Linked DNA regions of Homo sapiens: region 1 is linked to region 2. Evidence: fine-mapped QTL for protein levels in blood plasma. A gene starts in region 2. The other region holds a variant in brackets. All regions are shown on one strand. Distances are between the middles of the regions.

Region 1 (2,923 bases), 11 kb before region 2:
AAAGTTGGTAATTAAGGAGAGTAGGTCTTGGACAGAGGGAAATTATTATAGACCATGGACAATCTTGACATGGAAGTTATAGGCCATTGGTTTCTTAGTTTTTCTTTTTTATTTGCATATTTTTTATGAGAGCTGAATAATGAGCAGTGATTTGTGACATGAAAGCATCACTCACCTATGTAGTGATGTGATGGGATCAGCAGCCTGACAATAACAATTTGAAAAGAAAGATGAAGTATAGAAAAAAGAGAGTAAAGGGGACGTTAAAGAATGCTTTGCTGTAACAGGGAAGAGGCTGTCGAGGAGATAGATAGTATAGAGAAAAGGAGTTTGAAGGAAGATTGCTGTTTTTCTTTTTAATATGAAGACTTGAGCACATTTATACATCTACTTTAAAAAGAGCAATTGAAAGAGAAAGGGGACAAACAATTTGTAATGTACAGTTCCTAAGAAGGGGGAAGAAATAGAGTTCAACCTATAGCTAGAAATATCAATGGCAGATGAAGGAGGGATACCACATCCCTCCTTAATCAACAATTAATCAACAGAAATGTGTGCAGGAAACAAAAGCATATATGCAGTTACGTTTTTAGCTTTTTCTATGAAATAGACATCTAGGTTATATGCTATAAATGAGGAAAGATTTTGCGGAAGGGTAGCTTACACATTTGAGAAGGAATGTTTTGGGAAAAAGTACCAAGAAGAGTGAGACTATGAGTTTAATAGCTAAAGATCCTAAATTTGCTAGACAGTGAAGAGAGCCCAAGTGAGTTACTGTTTATACCTTCAGTGTAATATCCATCCTCCTTGTCATGACTTTTTGAGACAATGCCTAGCTACTTTCTGTCTAGACATAGAGAAAGCAGAGGTATTAGTCCGTTCTCACACTGCTATGAAGAAATACCCAAGACGAGGTAATCTATAAAGAAAAGAGGTTTAATTGACTCACAGTTCTGCATGGCTGGGGAGACCACAGGAAACTTACAAGCAGGATGGAAGGCACTTCTTCACAAGGTGGCAGGAGAGAAAAGGAGTGCCAGATGCTTATAAAACCATCATATCTTGTGAGAACTCACTCACTATCATGAGAACAGTATGGGGGAATCACCCCCATGATTCAGTGACCTCCCACCGGGTCCTCCTCATTACCTGTGGGGATGTGCCCTCCATCCTGATTGTAAGTTTCCTGTGGTCTCCCCAGCCATGCAGAACTGTGAGTCAATTAAACCTCTTTTCTTTACAGATTACCTAGTCTTGGGTATTAATTATGGGATTAAAATTTAAGATGAGAATTGGGTGGGGACACAAAGCTAAACCATGTCATTAGATAATCATGTTAATCCAGAGCTTGTGTTTTGCCTGATGGTTGAAGAATAAGAGAGAGGGACTAAGTAGTTTAGGCTATTGGCAATAGCATTATTGAAATAGGGAAATGTTAGACTCTCAGCAGGATAAGGAGAAAGTAAAGATAAGAGAGGCTGATGGATTGAAAGAAAGTCAAAAGGTAAGTAATCTAAAGGTTCTGATGAGATAATAACTTTCTTTTATTCTGAAAGAGTATACTGTCTTTCTGCAGAGGTCGTTCATTTCATTAATGAGAATAAAGAGGTATTAGGTTGCTACTTACATCTCTTCAGCAGTACACAGGAGACATTCTGTATTTACAGCAATGCTTTTGAAAATATGAAACATTAGGAATAATACAAGAGCTAAGCTATTTCAATCCTGAAAAATCAATTATGCTTTTTATGTTATTGTCATAAGTACCTACAGGAGGCAGGTTTGTTTTTTTTTTT[C/T]TTTTTTTTTCGGAGTCTCGCTCTGTTGCCAGGCTGGAGTGCAGTGGCACGATCTCCATTCACTGCAACCTCCACCTCTCGGGTTCAAGTGATTCTCCTACCTCAGCCTCCTGAGTAGCTGAGACTACAGGCGCACACCACCATGCCCAGCTAATTTTTGTATTTTTAGTAGAGACGGGGTTTCACCATGTTGGCCAGGATGATCTCGATCTGTTGACCTTGTGATCTGCCCGCCTCAGCCTCCCAAAGTCCTGGGATTACAGGCATGAGCCACTGTGCCCAGCCAGGAAGTAGTTTTTAAGGAAAAAAAAATAACCCACTGTTCAAATGGTACAAATAAAATAACTAACATATTTATAAACTTTCATGCAGACCTTTTCATAACCCAAAAATTGAAACAGGAAAACCTATTTAAATATTTGAATATGCTAACATTAACATGAAGAACATATAAAAATATAGAAATATTTGTATATAAAAAGTTTGAGTATAATCATATGGGTTTCAAAATATGTATTCTACTTAAGTTAGTATTACTACATCTATGATACAGGTGATAGAAAATAATGCTCAGAAAAAGTTAAATATTTTGATCATGGGCATCACTGAGCCACATAGTATTAAACCAGGATTCAACATATGCTCTTTTACTCTAAATATTGGTTTAAAAAATTCTTTCCAGCTAAAATCATTATTACAGATACTTGTAGATAGTTGAAATTAGTGTTTAGCATTATACATTACAATTAATTATATTCAGCATTTATTTTCTTAGTAATTGTACTTTCTTAACTTTTTGACTTCCAATAAAAATTTAGAGTTACTACGAGTAAAACATGTATTTCTGAGGGATGAGCTTTCTAGCCAGAGAAAACAGCATGCACAAAGGCCCTGAAGTGGGAGAACGCTTACCTAGGTTGAGAATTATCAAGGGACTCAATGTGTCTTGAATGGGGTGAGGGAGAAAGAAAATGATAGATAAGGTCAAAGATATAGTAGGAGTCCGCATCAAGAAAGACTTCCTAGACAACTATAAGGATTTTATTTTTATCCTAATTGACATGGAGCAGAAGAGCATTTGTGGGAAGGGACCTAGATGTGTTCATTTATTTAGAGGGTGGAAGTAG
Region 2 (2,923 bases):
CCAAAGACAGATCTTGGCATTCATAACATATATTCTCTTGTCAACACTTTAGAGGTGCATATTTTGTGTACTAATGAAATGATTGTAATGTCTCACATTGTCTCAGTTCTATAGTAGAGTTAGGACAGGCACTATGCAATCTTAAGTAGAATTTCAGCTATGTGAGAGTAGCCATGAATTTGCAATAAAAGGTGTAGGCACCACATTTACTTTTCCTATAATCCTACTATTAGATAACACATATAAGAGCTGCTATTTATTTTGTCATTTGTTTCCATCCTAGAAGAAAGCAAAAGAGAATTTTGAAGGTACAATGTATCACATTTAGAGCAACCTTTAGGTCTGTAGCTCATCAGACTGGCTTTTAAAATATGCAAGCATTCCAGGTTAAAAGTCTCTAAATAACTTCATGTCATTTTACTGTTAAATAATGTTTAGAGTTTGCTATCTTTTGTAGACCTTGGAAATCTAATTATTTATAATGTCCAGTGACATTTACATTTTGCTAAATATACTCTGCTTGTACAAGAACATCTCATGATTAGAAAAATGGGTAGAGAATGCCTGGCTGTACATATGCTTCTATATAATGCAAAAATATCAGGGTGACACATGTTATCTTTTTGTTATAGTTTCGTGATTTTAAAACATAATTCTCAAAAAGTTTTTAACTATTAGCATTTAAAATACAGAATAAGAAAAAGTTATCATAGTTGAGATCAGTGTTTACCATTTAACTCTCCACTATCAAATCAAATATCTATTCAAGTTTATTGGTATCTTAACATAATACCATTCATTTCCATGCCAACAGCTCCTGAGTGTTTGGCTTAGTTTTTGAGATTGATTGAAGGTAGATTGTAAAGTTGACCTATTGTGTTAAGCTTATTTACACAAACACAGTGCCTTGGAAAATCAACTCTGGAAGTCCATAGCAGTTGAATCCTAAGGTATTGCACATCCTAAGTTTTCTAATACCTGCTTTATAGAAATCCCTTGGGTGGTGAATCTCAACTTTGCCAGTTACCTTACCTGGGGGAAATTACTTCAACATTCCTAAATTTGAAGTAAAATTTAGGAATTGCTTTAGGACAAAGGATTTGCCTTTAATTTCATTTGACCAATTTGCTTAAGTAAATAATTTATCATTTCTATCAAATTTATGAGACAGTCACAGATGAACTTTTTTTTTTCAGGCTCTTGAAACACACTTTTCTTAAAAGAGTTTAAAAATAACATCCCTAAGATATAAGCAATAGAAAAAGACTTAATTTTGAAAAAAACCTTATGGCAACAGTGAAAAACAGAATTTGGATTCTGGATGGTTACAAATAGATTATTTTCAAAAGAAGTTGGATTTATTCAACTTAGGTCAATTTATCTTGGTAAGAATTTAAAAGCGCTTTCTGATGCCACATCCTTGTCTGTCACCTATTCTTAAATAATCAGTCTATGTCATCACCCCTCCCGAACTCCCCATTTCCCCCATCAAAATGTGGACTTCTCTCCTGCTGCTGAGTAACGTGGGGCTGGTTATGACTGGGAGGGAGGATGGGAGCGAGGCACGTGGACCAGAAATACTTCCTAGAAACAGCAAGTACGCTGCTCAACCCTGCCTGAACTTTCCTGTAAACAGCCACTGACAGACTGCATCCCTGCTGGGTGGATCCTGCGACTCCTAGAGGGAATGGCACTTCTTGTTTTTAATTAGCAAGGTGAAAGGTGAATTAAAACTAGCAGTTTGGCAAGTCAGTGCAAGAGGCTGACTTCTGAGAGGCTTCCAGGAGCCCGAAGAGAGGACCTCCACGGGAGAAGGGAGTGCGTGTGCTCGGTTTTGTTTTTTTCTCTCTTTTTTTTTTTTTTTTCTGAATGAACAGCTTTGCCCAAGTGACTGAAAAATACAGCTTCTTCCTGAATCTACCGGCGTAGTTGCTGAAGAGCGCTCTAGACAGGACATGGCTCTGAAGACTCACTCTTTGGAATGTCCTCTTGCTCCCGGCTTATAAACAACTGTCCCGAGGAAAGAAAGGTTTTACATAGCCAAATACAGCCTGACAAATGGCACTTCGGAACTGTGCTTTCTGATGACAACGCGTTCGATTTCTGACAAAGCCTCTCGCACGCTGCCCCTGGAGGGAAGTCCTAAGTAAAACTCAGACCCTCCTTAAAGTGAGGAGCGAGGGCTTGGACGGTGAACACGGCAGCATGGCATCCGCGGGGCACATTATCACCTTGCTCCTGTGGGGTTACTTACTGGAGCTTTGGACAGGAGGTCATACAGCTGATACTACCCACCCCCGGTTACGCCTGTCACATAAAGGTAGGTTACCTTTCCAGATCCTTTTGTTTAAAAAAAAAAAAAAAGAAAAAGAAAAAAGAAAAAAAAAGTCGTTTAACATTAACATAGGCTTATGGTCTTCAAAGACCTTTAAAATGCACCTGAAAAATTTATTGCAAAACTGACCTAAAATTCTAAGTACCTCTGATTAATGTGTCATACTCACCTCATCTGAAAACAGTGCAAAATCACATGTCAACTTAGAGATGTTATTTTTGTCTGTAAACATTGGATTTTATCAATAAGGAGTTCACTCACTAGCCCGCGGAACACAGGAAGGGAGGAAGCAGGTTGAAAATAGCCTTGAGAGGCTGAATCCACCAAGTTAACAGTAGATATTTAAATATCAGTTTATGCATATGAGAAACAAGGATGCTGGGAAAGGGCTATAGAAATAGGGGTGCAATTTGTTCTTTTTGTTTTTGTTTTGTTTTGTTTCCATAATGGAGGTAAGAGGAGAAAATAAAAATCCCGAGGAGAAAAATGATGCCCTACCCATAACTGTCATCATCATGTAATTAAAATGATTAACAACTAATATAAATTAGTTTTCCAGTTGAATTGATTATTAGAATTTTTTCATGT

Evidence for each region. PIP is the chance, under the fine-mapping model, that this variant and not a neighbour inherited with it causes the effect. Sun 2018 read protein levels with aptamers (SomaScan).
Region 1: its variant is fine-mapped to the plasma level of the SEMA3E protein (Sun 2018, PIP 0.95).

Annotation. Positions count from the first base shown.
Region 1 is chr7:83,659,249-83,662,171 of GRCh38, reverse strand. No RefSeq gene overlaps it. Among named protein-coding and RNA genes, the nearest start is that of SEMA3E, 12 kb to the right of the region's middle. The variant C/T (reference allele first, on the strand shown) is at 1,797.
Region 2 is chr7:83,647,825-83,650,747 of GRCh38, reverse strand. It overlaps SEMA3E (semaphorin 3E), which reads left to right and starts at 1,609. Exons shown (of 17, transcript NM_012431.3): 1 at 1,609-2,320. The coding sequence starts at 2,206.